2 separate regions of the Homo sapiens genome follow, and region 2 is linked to region 1. The links come from fine-mapping of genetic effects on gene expression. Tissue or cell type: whole blood. Region 1 holds a variant in brackets; the other region holds the start of a gene. All regions are shown on one strand. Distances are between the middles of the regions.

Evidence for each region. PIP is the estimated chance that this variant, and not a neighbour inherited with it, causes the effect.
Region 2: it holds the start of PSMA3-AS1, and the variant in region 1 is fine-mapped to the expression of PSMA3-AS1 in whole blood (TOPMed, PIP above 0.99).

The regions. Positions count from the first base shown.
Region 1 is chr14:58,261,181-58,269,266 of GRCh38, forward strand. PSMA3 (proteasome 20S subunit alpha 3) reads left to right here. Exons shown (of 11, transcript NM_002788.4): 7 at 2,525-2,590; 8 at 6,294-6,340. It overlaps PSMA3-AS1 (PSMA3 antisense RNA 1), which reads right to left. Exons shown (of 4, transcript NR_029435.1): 4 at 4,185-6,213. Among named protein-coding and RNA genes, the nearest start is that of PSMA3, 20 kb to the left of the region's middle. The variant G/A (reference allele first, on the strand shown) is at 4,850.
Region 2 is chr14:58,294,304-58,302,410 of GRCh38, forward strand. PSMA3-AS1 (PSMA3 antisense RNA 1) reads right to left here and starts at 3,834. Exons shown (of 4, transcript NR_029435.1): 1 at 3,652-3,834. It overlaps ARID4A (AT-rich interaction domain 4A), which reads left to right and starts at 4,252. Exons shown (of 24, transcript NM_002892.4): 1 at 4,252-4,397; 2 at 5,495-5,557; 3 at 7,277-7,387. The coding sequence starts at 5,552. RefSeq lists enhancers at 3,482-4,205, 3,502-3,921, 3,942-3,991, 4,102-4,191 and a silencer at 4,822-5,341.

The sequences.
Region 1 (8,086 bases):
TTTTTTTTTTTTCCTTTTTGGGGGAACAGGGTCTCACTGTGGCCCAGGCTGGAGCACAGTGGTGTGATCACAGCTCACTGCAACCTCTGCCTCCCAGGTTCAAACAGTTCTTCTGCCTCAGCCTCCCGGGTAGCTGGGATTACAGGTGTGCACCACCTGGCTAATTTTTTTTATTTTTAGTAGAAACAGGCCTTTGCCATGTTGGCCAGACTGGTCTTGAATTCCAGTCCTCAAGAGATCTACCCACCTGGGTCTCCCAAAGTGCGAGTATTACAGGTGTGAGCCACCAGGCCCAGCCATGTTTTCTTATCATTAATAACTGATACGAGGCAGAGGAAAGATTTTTTTTCAGTATGTTATTTATAGAAACTGTATAGTGCATATAGTATTTTGAATATGTGATTTTCCTTTATTACTATAAACACTGTCTTAAAACTGTATTTAATGTCTTTTTTCCTCATTCTTGCCCAGGCTGGAGTGCAGTGACACAATCATAGCTCACTTCAGCCTCTCAACTCCTGGGCTCAGGCGATCCTCCTACCTAAGCCTCCCAAGTAGCTGGGACTACAGGCTCATGCCACCATGCCTAGCTAATTTTTGTATTTTTTTGGTGTCTATAGAGACAAGGTCTTTCCACGTTCCCAGGGCTGGTCTCAAACTCCTGGCCTTAAGCAGTCCTCCTGCCTTGGACTCCCAAAATGCTGGGACTACAGGCGTGAGCATCGATGTCCAGCCATGTCATCCCTTTTATTTTATTTATTTATAAGATGGAGTGTCACTCTGTCTCCCAGGCTGGAGTGCAGTGGCTCGATCTTGGTTCACTGCAACCTCTTCCGCCTCCTAGGTTCAAGCAATTCTCCTGTCTCAGCCTCCTGATTAGCTGGGATTACAGGCATGTACTACCATGCCTGGTTAATTTTTGTATTTTTAGTACAGATGGGGTTTTGCCATGTTGGCCAGCTGGTCTCCAACTCCTGACCTCAGGTGGTCTGCCCACCCCGGCCTGCCAAAGTGCAAGGATTACAGGCGTGAGCCACAGTGCCGGACCTAATTTTGTTTCAGACAGCGTCTCGCTCTGTCACCCAGACTGGAGTGCAGTGGCGCCAAACCTCCACCTCCCCAGTTCAAGCAATTCTGCCTCAGCCTCCCGAGTAGGCTGGGATTAGAAGCATGCATCACCACACCCGGCTAATTTTTGTATTTTCAGTAGAGACGAGGTTTCACCATGTTAGCCAGGCTGGTCTCGAACTCCTGATCTCAAGTAATCCGCCCACCTTGGTCTCCCAAAATGCTGGGATTATAGGTGTGAGCCACCTTGCCCTGCCTTCCCTTTTAAAGAGAAGGTTTAAATGTGATTTCTAAGAGCTTTCCCTAAATTATTACCATTTTTTTTTTTTTTTGAGACAGAGTCTTGCTCAGTTGCCCAGGCTGGACTGCAGTGGTGCAATCTTGGCTCACTGTAACCTCTGCCTCCCGGATTCAAGGGATTCTTGTGCCTCAGCCTCTCAAGTAGCTGGGATTACAGGCCTGTACCATCACACCTGGCTAATTTTTGTATTTTTAGTAGAGACAGACTTTCACCATGTTGCCCAGGCTGGTCTGGAACTCCTGGCCTCAAGTGATCCACGTGCCTCAGATTCCCAAAGTGCTGGGATTACAAGCACTTTGTGTGAGCCACTGCACCCGGCCTGTTACCGTTTCTTAACTGTTTTCTTATCCTTACATTTTTGTCGTTTTTACTAATTGAAGAAAATGAAGATTCTTAAATATATTTTGCTGTAACAGAAGTATATATGTGTACATCCTTTTTTTTTTTTTTTTTGATGGAGTCTCACTCTGTTGCCCAGGCTGGAGTGCAGTGGCGCGGTCTCAGCTCACTGCAACCTCTGCCTCCCAGATTCAAGCGATTCTCCTGCCTCAGCCTCTGGAGTAGCTGGCATTACAGGCACCTGCCACCACACCTAGCTAATTTTTTTGTATTTTTAGTAGAGACAGGGTTTTACAATGTTGGCCAGGCCGGTCTCCAACTCCTGACCTGAGGTGATCTGCCCACCTTGGCCTTCCATAGTGCTGGGATTACAGGCATGACCCACCACACCCAGCTGTGCATCCTTATCTTTAAAAAAATTTACAAAATAATAAAATTGGGGGTTTAGAGTACTGAACTCATAGGAATTAACTTTATTTCTGTCTCTCAGGAATATATAATTTCATTTTTCATTGTCATAGTGCTAAAATCTTTTCCGTTCCTGTTCCCCAAAATGTCTTAAAGTGTATATGATTACATAATTTACATATTTTTGGATATACCTTTATTAAAAATACAGGTTGTTTTGGAATTGTTTGGTATTTTAGTATTTTTGAGCCCTTTGGCATTCATCAGAATGTGTTTGACTATATTTTTCTATACTTGCTTTTAAAAGTCATTTAGCATCCTTTCACTAGGTTATAGAAACATTAGTAGTCATTAATTACATATGATAGTGTACTAATTCAGTGATTATATATATTTTTTTCTAAATAGGGTTATTGGGGCTGTGCCATCGGCAAAGCCAGGCAAGCTGCAAAGACGGAAATAGAGAAGCTTCAGGTAATAATTAATGCTTGAATTTTTACTATGTCGTCATCCTAATGCAGTGAAATTTTATCACCACAGACATTTCAGTCTAAGGCAGGGATGTCCAATCATTTGGCTTCCCTGGGCCACACATAAAATACACCAACACTAATGATAGCTGATGAGCTTAAAAAAAAATCTCATCATGTGTTAAGAAAGTTTACGAATTTGTGTTTGGCCCCATGTGGCCTGTGGCTGGGGAAGCTCGGTGTAAGGATATAGTGTGGTTTGATGTTGAGAGTTTATGAAGCTGCTAAGTCACTGAATGGGAAAGCTGGTAACATATTATCTGTAGAGTTGTGTTATACATCCCTTTATAGATTCTGAATAACTGCTATAAAGCCTCAATCTAGAAAAACACAACTTTTGATATGATTTCACAAAATCCTTGAAACCTATTTATGAATCTCTGTGAGCTCTAGTTTGAAAATTTTGTTTAAAATTTTGAGTTAATAAAAAGTTATATTTTTCCTATATTCTTTCTTTGGAACACAGCTTTTATGTCTGGCTGTGCTCCACCGGTTCTCTTAGCTTTGCTCCTAGCCAGGTAAGGCATAAAGCCTACACTCTTACGACTACCCACTTTTTCTTTCACAAAATTCAGCTATTAGTGTGAAAAAGTTTTCTTAAAAACTTGGTTTTCCTTTTAGCCATGCGTTGATCAACTTAAAGACTTCATGGATACTGTTTCAATATTATTGATTACCTGTCAGAAACTTGCCTAAAAAGCAGGCATACCATTTATCAGTGTTTTGGTAAACTGAAGTGAGATACAATTTCACATACATTTAATGTTAATGCTGTACTAGAACCCTGCTCAACTAATTACTCATTCAACTTATTTAAGACCAGCTTCTAGAAAATACTTATTAGTGCTTGGCATTTATACAATGCTAAGTTCTAGAACCCCCTATAAAACCTAATTTGTTTCGTATTTTAGTAAAGCTGACAAAAGGATCTTAGAGGTCATTTAGCCCAAGCTCAACTGCAGATTAAACACACTGCATAGGACCACAGAATCAGCTGGTTCTGAACAGTATCCAGACCTTATGAGTCTTAGACCTATGTTCTTTTCCATTGCACACTTACTAGTATGATGCTAGGTTCCTATCTTCTACTCTTTTCCTTTTGTTTTCATCTCTCCATACTATTATATGGAAATTTGAAAATTAGAATATTTATGTCAGTTGAGGGGGATTACCCCTGTAATCCTACCAGTTTGGTAGGCCAAGTTGGGAGGACTGCTTGAGCCCAGTAGTTCCAAGACCAGGCTGGGCAAAAGAGTAAGACCCTATCTCCCAAAACAAAATGTTAGCGAGGTGAGGTGGTGCGTGCCTGTAGTCCCAGCTACTTGGGAGGCTGAGGCAGGAGGACTGTTTGAGCCCCAGCCAGGAGTTGGGGGCTACAGTGAGCTATGATCACGCCACTGCACTCCAGCCAGGGCAACAGAGCGACACCTTATCTCAAAAAAATAAAGGAAATTAGAATATTTAGAGCAGTTACTATCTGTCTTTCTGTAGTTAAATCCTAGCAAGGAATGGGAAAAACAATAAATCCCAGAGAAAAATCAAGAAAAAAAAATCACTTTAATTGAGGAACACTTTCAGTTTGTGACAAAATTATGCTGTGAATCAGGTGTTGCAAATTATGGCCCACTGCCTGCTTTTGTGTAAGTTTTATTGGAACACAGCTACATTCAGTCCATGGCTGCTTTTAGAATACAACAGTAGACTTTAACATTTGGAACAGGGAACAGAAACCAGAGCCATACAGCTAATAAACTTGAAAATATTTACAAGTTGATGCTTTACAAAATCCATCTGCTGACCCCTGCTCTGTACCATTGTTCTCTTCTGATGGTCTGTTTACTAAAAAATAAAAACTTCACAAACATGTAAAAAATAGATTTGCCATTTAAAATGTGCTTTTCAAGTTTGACTTTTTAGGATGCAATTAATTCACTAAATACAGAACTTAACTAAGGACAAAAATTTAAAGATCAGCATTCTTTCCCTTCCCATCACGCTCAACTTAACATGAAGAACTGTAAACATCCTAAGCTTACAACAAACCTATCTAGTTAGACTTCAGTTAACCACTTACACATCCCCCTCCCCCATGAACTATTTGGAAAAAGCTGCAGGCGTAATATTGGATCCCTAAATACTTTATTCTCCTTATACCATTATCAGACCCAAGTATCATCTAATAGTCCATAATCAAACTGCCTAA[G/A]CAGTTTCTACACTGTCTTTTTAACTATTTCAAACTATCAAGGTTCGCATTTTCTTCCTTAGAACTTTTAGTCTTTTTCTTCCCCAAAATATTTGAGTCCATGCCAGTTGCCTTTAGTTGTACCCAAATAATGGTTTGTCTATTTCCTAAAAGTAGTACTCTTAAATTTAAATTTAGTGTTATTTTTGTTGTCATTGTTCCTTCTTCCTCATGTGGTTGTGCAGGCAGAGCTTGAGCATCCAGATTTCAAAATTAAAAAATAAAAGATAATCTAGTTTAATATATAGTAGTTGAATCACCTTAAGTCTAGACTGCTGTATGAGCACCCATTATCTTTCACTATATTCCATCATCCCCCAACATATCCACAGTAGATGAAGGGCAGTTTGCTCAAACATTGTTTTGATCCTGTCATGTCTGTTCAGAAATGCCTGTCTATTCAGAAACCCACGTCTAATAACAAAATCTTGGACTGGTTACTATCAAAACCCAACAACATACAGACTCCTCAGCTAGGCCCTAGGGATATTTTTCTACCTTGATTTCCAAATGTTCATTGAAAGAATGCTTAATTCTAATTTGGAAAAAAGTTTTTGGCTTCCCACTTCTGCTTTACACGTTCATCTTTCTTGAAATCAAATCCAATCCAATCTATATTCTAAGAACCTGCTCAAATCTTGGTTCTTCAAAGCTTTCCCTGGTATTTTGCATTTTTGCTTTGAATAGTTCCACGAAGGATAACTTCTTACTCCTTCCTTCATCTTTCTGTATCTTGCATATAGTAAATATTAATGACTTGTTTGCATTTTGTTATCCTAACTTGGCTATAAAGAAAATCAGATGTCTTCACCAGTCGTTCAAACTTCAGGTCTGCCTACAGATTCATAGATGGCTGTGGATTTTTATAATTTTGTCACAAAGTTAGTGGTAACTACAGGTTATCTCAGAATATCTTTTTTGGCGTATAAATTTTTTTCTTTTCCTTTTTTAGACAGTCTCTCTCTCTGTCGCCCAGGCTAGAGTGCAGTGGCGTGATCCCGGCTCACTACAACCTCTGCCTCCTGGGTTCAAGAGATTCTTAGGCCTCAGCCTCCCGAGTAGCTAGGGTTACAGGCGCGCACCACCTCCATGCCCAGCTCTTTTGTATTTTTAAGTAGAGACAGGGTTTCACCATGTTGGTCAGGCTGGTCTCGAACTTCTGACTTCAGGCAATCCGGCCGCCTCGGCCTCCCAAAGTGCTGGGATTACAGGCACAAGCCACTGCACCCAGCCTGGAGTATAAATTTCAAAACATTAAAATATGAATCAGGAAACTTCGATTCTGGTCTTTTTCAGACTTTAGGTTATTTTCCTTGGTTTTATATCTGAGTATAAAAGTGAAAATAGTTATTACACAAGTGGAAAATGTTCTTCTGATGAACAGTATACATTTTATTTTCTATAGATGAAAGAAATGACCTGCCGTGATATCGTTAAAGAAGTTGCAAAAATGTAAGTTGAAATTTTTCTTACCATCCACAAAAATATTTCATTTGACCTTTGCATATATATATTACATTAATCCTAAGAAGCTGTTTTCCTGTAAAATAACTTAGTGTATAATTTTTAGAAGGTAAATTTAACATTCTAAGAAGCCTCACGAAGGAAGAAAATGTTTTTAAGCAATATTTTTTAGTAGTAATGAATAGGATGGGAAAAATAGCTTGACAAAATAAACTCCTGTTACAGGTTAAGGACATATACCATTAGGGTCTTAATTTGTTAGCTCCCAACTTCTCAAATCTCTTAAGTCCTAATAATAGTAATCTTAAGATTGCCTCTATTGTAAGAATGCTTACAAACTTTATAGGTTACAACTAATTATTTCAATACATGATCCATGAAGCTGGCTCATTTATATAATCTGCTATTTATTTGGGAAAGATATGTTTCACTTTTTCAGGTTTATTATAAAAGTTCCTATAACAAGGTAAGAAGAGCAGTATTACAAAACATTTCAACAACCAGCTTAAGAAACCCTGAATAGTTTATTACAGGTATATAAAGTAGAATACTATTAATATGTAACAGGTATTTGGACAGTAAACAATAAAAAAGTCAATTAACCTGGGTAGTGATGTTTCTAAAATTTTGTGATTCTCTAGATCAAAGAGTGTAGACATTTGGTATTACAAAAAGATTCCAACAAAATACGTTGTGTAGCCAGCTTTTTAGATTCAAAAGTTATGGATAATCGTAATTCATAACAACTCTAAGTATTCCACATTAGAACTACATAAACAAGGTCTAGTCAATCACCTGTCTGTATGGTAGTGTATCAGGTTTTACATCTAACAATACGTGGAAGAAAAAAATTCCAATGGGCTCTATTGTTTAATAAACATACTATTTACATCACACTCAGAGTCTCTTATTAACCGGTCCATCATTACTGCTACTGCCTTTACCCCTCTTGCCACCTCCTCCCCTCCGCCCTCCTAGTTTCAGTTGTGAAGCAAGCAGAAGCCATTCTATGATTGTCAGTTAATAATGGCAACACTAGGAACCAACATGCAGCAGAGCTGCTAAGAAAGGAAGTCAGATATCTTCCTTGAATTGTATAGTATGTTATCATGATATACTCTGTTTCCTTCACCGAACCAATCCTTTGAAGTCCTTCTGGAAATCAGTTCTTACCATCTTTTATATTTAGGTATAATGGTAGTCATCTGTTAAGTGTTCCATGTTAGGAAAGCCATCCCTTCATCATTTAAGAAAATGGAGCAGCATGTTATCTTTTACTTAGTTGTAGAAAATCAAGATCCTCTCATATTATAGCAAGGTTTTAGAAGACCCTCCAAAAAGTAAGGTATGTAACTCAGTGCATAGTATTAGATAAAGCTATACTCTGCTACTGTACTTAATTTGATACTTTTTTTTTTTTGAGATGGAGTCTCACTCTGTCGTCCAGACTGGAGGGCAGTGGCACGATCTTGGCTCACTGCAACCTCCGCCTCCCGTGTTCAAGCAATTCTCCTGCATCAGCCTCTCAAGTAGCTGGGATTACAGGCGCCCACCACCACACCTGGCTAATTTTTGTATTTTTAGTAGAGACAGGCTTTACCATCTTGGCCAGGCTGGTCTTGAACTCCTGACCTTGTGATCCACCCACCTTGGCCTCCCAAAGTGCTGGGATTACAGATGTGAACCACCGCACCTGGCCTCTTGATACTTTTTATGTTACTTTAATATGTTGCA
Region 2 (8,107 bases), 33 kb after region 1:
ACGAACTCTTGGAAAGCATTTTCTGCATCCTGCTAGTTGTGGAAGTGTTTTCCCTGCAAAAAGGTGTCGCAATGCTTGAAGAAGTCGTAGTCAATGGAGAGAGGTCAGGTGAATATGGCGGATGAGGCAAAATGTCACAGCCCAATTTGTTCAACTTTTGAAGCATTGGTTGTGCAACATGTGGAAGGGCATTGTGAAGAATTGGGCCTCTTTCTGTTGACCAATGCTGACTGCAAGCGTTGCAGTTTTTGGTGCATCTCATCGATTTGCTGACCATACTTCTCAGATGTAATGGTTTCGCCAGGATTCAGAATGCTATAGTGGATCAGACCAGCAGCAGACCACAAAACAGTGACCATGACCTTTTTTTGGTGCAAGTTTGGCTTTGGTAAGTGCTTTGGAGAATCTTCTCAGTCCATCTACTGAGCTGGCCATCACCAGTTGTTGTATAAAATCCACTTTTTCTCGCACATCACAATCTGACCAAGAAATGGTTTGTTGTTGCAAAAAATAAGGGATAAGGACACTTCAAAACAATGACTTTTTTTTTCGGTCAGTTCATGAGGCACCCACTTATCGAGCTTTTTCACTTTTTAATTTGCTTCAAATGCTGAAGGACTGTAGAATGGTCCACATTGAGTTCTTCGGCAACATCTCAAGTAGCCTTAAGAGGATCAGCTTTGCTGATTGCTCTTAACCGGTAGTTATCAACTTCTGGCGACCAGCCACTACGCTCCTGATTTTCAAGACTTTCCTTCCCTTTGCAAAATTTCTTGAAACTGCCAGGCACAGCGGCTCAAGCCTGTAATCCCAGCACTTTGGGAGGCCAAGGCGGGCGGATCACGAGGTCAGGAGTTCGAGACCAGCCTGGGCCAAGATGGTGAAACTCCATCTCTACTAAAAATACAAAAATTAGCTGAGCATGGTGGTGCGTGCCTGTAATCCCAGCTACTGGGGAGGCTGAGGCAGAATGGCTTGAACCCAGGAGGCAGAGGTTGCAGTGAGCCAAGATCATGCCACTGCACTCTAGCCTGAAAGAGCAAGATTCCATCTCAAACAACAACAACAAAAAAACTTCTTGAATCACCACTGCACTGTAAGTTAACAGTTCCTGAACCATATGCATTGCTGATATGGTGTCTCTGTTGTTTTACAACCCATTTTTAACTCAAAAACGAAAACTGCTCGAATTTGCTTTTTTGTCTAACATCATTTTCATTGTCTAAAATACACATGAAGGCTGGGCACGTGGCTCATGCCCGTAATCCCACCACTTTACGAGGCCGAGGCAGGCAGATCATGAGGTCAGGAGATCGAGACCACCATGGCTAACATGGTGAAGCCCCTTGGCTCTATTAAAAATACAAAAAATTAGCTGGTGTGGTGGCACGCGCCTGTAGTCCCAGCTACTCGGGAGGCTGAGGCAGAAGAATTGCTTGAACCTGGGAGGCAGAGGTTGTAGTGAGCCGAGATGGTGCCACTGACTTCAGCCTGGCGACAGAGCGTGACTCTGTCTCAAAAATAAAATAAAATAAACATGAAATAAACAGAGAGTAATAAGTCATTACCAAAAGAACAAAGCGAGAAATGCCCATTAAAATGATGTATAACATAACCACATTTATTTAACAACGTAGTCCAACATCAAATGGCAAATTCCAATAATGCAAAAACCACGATTACTTTTGCAACGACCTTCTTAGACACAATATTTTGCAAAACATGTACAAGGATATTCACTGACATATTACTGCCATTATAGAAAAATAAACACGTTACATAAATTATGATATATTTATCCCACAAAACACTATGAAGACATAAAAGATGCTTTACGATAAGATATTTCCAATATTCCCAATGTTTTCTATAAAGAATAGACGGTAATGAACAACACTAGAATATTTGGTAAAACAAAACCAACAAAAAAGACAAAGCCTTTTGTATAATATATAACTATAGTGTAAACCGTAACTACCTTTTGGAGGAGGGAAGACATTTTTGTATTCTTCTTTGGGCTTTTTAATAATTTCCAAATGTCCATGCATTATTTGGATTCAATAATAACAGTTTAAACTTTGATCGTAGAATTATGGATGCTTACCCCCTAGAAAATTCAGTAATATATTGTTTTATAAGGTCTTTTAAAAAACTGCTTCACTCCTACGAGATTGCGCCACTGCACTCCAGCCTCGATGACAGAGAGAGACTCTGTCTCCAAAAAAAAAAAAAAAAAAAAAAAAAAAGCCTCACTCCTAAACACTCCCATTTACAAGATCTTTTCTATATAAGAACTTTTTAAATAGGCGGGTGGGGGGGAGGAAATCACAAAAATACGCATAATGTTTTATAACAAAAACATGAGGTATATCAAAGTCCAGAAATGAGAACCACGTAAATGGGTAAACAAGTCCATAAGGATGTCCTAATTTTGGGATTTCATTCTAAAATATTACACTAGAAAGCTAATTATACAGACTCATTTGAATCTGACCAAACAAAACATCTTTTAACTACCCTTCCTCCCATTCTGGTATTTCTTTACTAATCCATAGAAAGTTTTTCCAGGTAGTCCCCCGCAATTCTAAGGATTTTTAGACTTTATGACTCACCTCAGTAATCACTGAGATGTTCTGTTTTCTTCAGCACAACTGCCAAAAAACCCAGTAATTGTTAAGTCACACAATCATTTTCTAGTTATGGGCGCCACCAATATAGCAGTAGGGTTTAAAACAGAGGTATTGAGGGTAACTATTAGGATCTATCCAGTGTGACTAGGTCACTCACTAGAAATGCCAACATGCATTTCACGTTTTTATGAATACTTTTGAGCAAAATTACTGTTACGAATAAAAAACTGATTCTGCTCGGCTGTTTTCTTACTGAGAAAATTTAGTCCACGTGGATTACTGACGATATGTCACATTTTAAAAATTACTCCATTCTATAAAACTAGTCAATTTTATACTCCAATTCCGCTATTTAAAAATGTGTGTTTCGTTTAACAGAATATAAGATGTTAACAGAAAAAGATCAACGTCTATCTTATCGGGGACGTCCTTTTGTCTAAGATGTTTTCAGTCCCTGCAAAACCACTGTTTGCTTTCAAAAAGTAGCATAAGCCTCGTGCAGAGTGACAGACCCTTGTCTAAGGTCACAGAAGAAGCGTCTGCGCTGGCAAGTAAATTCCTCAGCATCCAGAAAGCCAGCGCTTTCTCCAGTTTCCTCATAGCTTTATCCCGTGAGGAGCACGCGGAAACCTCTACCCATGCAGGATGTTTCTAAGAACCACTTCTTCCCTGTCTTAACTAAGAAGGCTCCCACAGCTGGTGCCAATCAGGTGGAGAACATGGCAAGTCCCCGAAATGCACTTCCAAAGACAGGAAAGATTGCAGTGGGACAGAACCCAGAAAATCTCTCACATTCTCGAAAACCCGAAAGAGAACCTCCAAGAAAGACGTTTGCCTCTCCTCCACCTCTTTATCTCGGCGGGAGAGGAAGCCTCGCCCCCATTCATCCCGCCCCTTCTCCCCACCCCGCCGCAGGGAGAAGTTTACCATGGCTGCCTGCGGCCCCTTCACTTCCGGTGCCGGTGCCGCTAGGGCTGCGCCATCCCCCCAGTCAATCGGACAACCATAGCCTCCAACTGACCTTTCTGACAGCTCTGAGACTCCTCCGGCCACGACTAGGTGCTGTCCTGGAGGAAACGGTGGAGGACGGCCGCACAAAAACCAATCTACCTGATGAAAACTCCGTTCCCTTCTCGCCAGAAACATAAAATGCGATGGAGCTACGGCCACCGCTGCCGAGACAAAATGGCGCCGACAAGCTGGTTTAGCGCAAGCGCCTTGGACAGACCCTGCCCCGCCCCCGTGCAAGCCCCTGGCTGCAATTCTGGGTTCCGTTTCCATGGGACACTCCGCCGCCAATCCTCGTGTCGAACTGCTCTTCCTGACCCCTCAATTCACCAATCAGTGCCCAGTCAAGCACATCCGGAGTCGTCTCTACCAATCATTTCTCAGGACTTGCTTACTCAATAACCAACTCTCCAATAAAGTTGGTTTTCGGAAAAAGCCAATCATAAGTGGAAGATGTCCTACCTGCTGTTTTTCTCACCAATCCATGAAGTTTCACAGCTACATCCAATGAGGACGGCAGGTAGCGAGGTCCTATCCGAAGCTCTTCGGCGTCATGAGCAGCCAATAGGAGTTCGTGTAGAAGCGAGTCTGCTCAACAGCTTGTTATTTGGTGGATTGTGGCAGTAAATCGGGGCGAGTGGGGAACCCGGCGCAGGAACTGCAGCCGCGGCTGGGAGTGGTGCTGCCCGGACGGGGGCCCACGGAGGTCAGAGGGGAGGAGGACTCTGGAGCTGACAGCGCGCACTTCACCCGCAGTTGGTAGGTGGGGAGAGGGGAATCCGGGGATACTGAATGGACGAAGTGGCAGTAGCAGCAGCTGCTGCTGCCCGAGGTCCCGGTGCAGTTGGAAGCTTTGGAGGTGGGGAGAGGGATGCTAGGCAAGTGGCACGGCGAGCGCAAGGGAAGGGGCCAGCCATTGACCAGCGGCAGCAACTGCAGGAACCGCCGCCGCAGTTGCAGCCGCCTCCTCGTCCGCTTCCTCGGGTTCCCGGGAAAATGGCTGTGGGGCTGGCCGCGCCGCTAAGTTTGCTTCCGCGCGGTGAAGAGCGGGCTGCTTGGGGGAGCCGTCCCCCAACTCCGCGGCGCGTCCACCTCTGCGGAGTCCGTGGCAGGACTCGAGGGGCTACGAGCTGATACCTCTCTGGGCTGTACAAAAAGTTGAGGCGGGCGCTGGGAGGAGGCAGCGGCTGCTGCGGTGCGGCTCCCCTCCCCTCCCACACCCTGTCCGGGCCACCTCCCCTCCTCCTCCCCTCCGCCCCCCGCCCCCTCCCCCACGCGGGTCCCCCGGGGCTCTGGCGGCTCCCGGCTGAAGGCCGCGGCCCCTGCCCCTTTGGGTGAAGGAGCGCTTCTCCTTTCTGACATGGTGCAGAGCGAAGGAAGGAGAGCAATGGCGCCGTGACACTCCGCTGCCGCCACCGCGGGCCCGGGGCGGGCCGAGGGGGCCGAGCGGCGGAGGCGGGGCGCGGGCCGAAGTCGGGGTATCCGGGGGACCGCGGAGCGGAGGCTCGGCGGTCGTCTCCGCGGGGGACCTGGGGAAGCCCGAAGGGAGCTCTGGCCTTTTCCGGAGCTATCTGTCCTGGAGCTCCGAGTTGAGCATTCCGGGTCAAAGTGGCCAGCGAGGCGGGGGCGCGGTGGGCCGCTGGCGAGCTCCGGGGCGGAACGGGCTGCCCTTTGGCGCTCGTGGGGTTCTCGCTGCCCCCTCAGCTCCTGCGTCCTGGCTGCCCTCGTAAGGGGTCTTGTCCCTTGGCTGGTGAGGATTCTGCCCCTCCCCGCTGGCGTTTGTTTACTTTCTTTCCCTTGGTCGCTCCCCGCAGTTGACTGATTATGTCTGTGCCTGTCTTTCCCCCTCCCCATAGTTCTAGCGACTGCGAAGATAGCTCGCTGAGCTGGAACCCCACAGATCACCAACAAAAATGAAGGTAAGTGGAGTCAACTCTGCCCCGATCCTCGCGCCCTGAACACTGCCAATCCTAAGGCTAGTGCCGTGGAATGTCATTTGTTTTGCTACTCAAAATTGATGTTCCTACTGATCAGCAGTTTCGGCATAGGAGGATGTGTTGAATGGGTGAAAAATGATCTGTGTGTCTAAATGCGGAGTTTAGGCCCTCTCTGTAGCAGTACTTTGGAAAGGCTGGTGCAGCCTTTCAATTGTTGTCCATTCGGATAGTATTTTTAAACACTTCCTGTGTTGGCAGCAACCTTTGCAGAAGTAAAGCTTTTGTCCTGCTTTGGTTCTTTGGGGGATTTTTTGTAAATTTTTTTTCTTCCCGTGTGCCAATGCGATTTTCTAAAAGAAAGAATACGTGGATTAAGTAATGAAGGTATCATTTCTTCTGTGTGTAAAATGAACTTATGTGGCTAAAATATTTGAAGTTGAAGTATAATAATAGTTTTAGTTAAATCTTTCCAATAAGTATTTTAAAACATATACTAAAAAGATACATATTCTACTGAGGATGACTGCAAATATCAGTATGTGGATGGTTAAAGGGAAAGGATCTCATATAGCGTTCTTGAATGCTGTGGCCATTGAATGTTTCAGGTCAGATTTTTGTTTGCCAAAAGCATTCCTATTCAATTTGTATTTTTTGTAAATGCACTTACTTTAAAAGGTACCCAATTCCTGTCTTATTTACTGTTTCAGCATATTAAGCTCTGAAATATAGCATTTTCCCAAACTTTCTCGTGGTTTTCTATTTTCTCGAAGTAAATGACATATTTAACCTTCTTTAATATTACTTGGGAAAACTTATTAGAAAACAAAAAATCATTTTCTACTTCAAAACGTATCTCCAAAGTGTACACTGTTAACTTTGCACTTAACAATGTTAAGTTGAACTTGTATGGATACACTTTAACTTCCGGAAAAAAAAAAAAAAGGTAAAATGACAGATTGAGATAGCAATCATCCTGTTACTGTAAAAATTAAAATGAGTGGTAGAGTGACATTTCTTACATCTTTCTATGTATCATTCTGGTCGTGTCCATTTGCTGAAAGTAGATGTTTCTTAGTAACGCTTATTTTTTTATACTAAGAAGATTAGTGTGGTAAACTAGGTATACCTACAAGTCTGGAGCCATCAGTTCATATCTGCATTCATCGGCTGAATTCAGACTTAAAACCTTTCAAGTGCAGCTTTTAGCAAATGAATTTTCCAAATGATACTTTCCTTATGAAAAGATGTTACCTTTATGTGGCTATGTCAATAAACAATTATGTATTGTTAGTGTTAATATTAGTAGCAATATTTCTTTTAATTTGAAAAATTTCAGGAAGCTATAAATGAATAACTTAGTTTTATGATATGTGTAATATGAAATATTTTTTCTGTTTTTTTCTTATCTTTCTGCTTATATAATAGTAGAATTTTTGAAAAATTTTGTATCGAGACAAAACATTATTAATCACTGATAATTTTGAATTACAACTTTAAAACATTTTATCATATCAGGACATCAGTCTATAAAATGAAAGGTTGCTAATCAAGTATTTAGGGTATTTTTCAAATTTTCAATGATATTAATAAGCAAGTCATTTTAATATTCTTAATGCTTCAAACACAACCTTTTAATGAGACTTGAGGTTGGAGTAGGGAGGCATAGTAATGACATTCACAGTTTTATGTTCCTTTCACCAGGCGGCAGATGAGCCTGCCTACCTGACAGTGGGAACCGATGTCAGTGCCAAGTACCGAGGTGCCTTCTGTGAGGCAAAGATTAAGACTGTGAAAAGGCTGGTGAAAGTTAAGGTAATATTTGTTTTTATGCAATAGTTTTATTAACTCTAGATTGAAGAAATTTGGGGAGAGAGAGACTGCAAATCAGCATTTTATTGAGTCATTATATGAAAACCCTTTATATACCAAACTTAAAGGAAAAGCACATCAAAAATAAAGAAATAAAAAACTCAAAAGGAGAAATTATTCCAAAATGCTACCATCAAAATACCATGCTCATGATATTTCCTGTCATTTGGCTCTTAACTATTTGTGGTAGCATACTTGGACTGTAATCTATTTTCTCCCCTCATTTAATGTTCAGGTAGAGACAATTTTAGTGTTTAGGACAATACAAATACAACAGGAATTATGTTTTCAAGACAGTGTAAAAAAGCATTTAAAAAGTTTATTTTGTGACTGGGCGTAGTGTCTCATGCCTGTAATCCAAGCACTTTGGGAGGCCGAAGTGGGCAGATCACTTGAGGCCAGGAGTTCAAGAGCAGCCTGGCCAACGTGGCGAAACCCTGTCTCTACTAAAATTGCAAAAATTAGACCCGGCGCGGTGACTCACGCCTGTAATCCCAGCACTTTGGGAGGCTGAGGTGGGTGGATCACCTGAGGTCAGGAGTTCGAGACCAGCCTGACCAACATGGTGAAATCCTGTCTCTACTAAAAATACAAAAATTAGCTGGGTGTGGTGGCAGGCACCTGTAATCCCAGCTGCTCAGGAGGCTGAGGCAGGAGAATTGC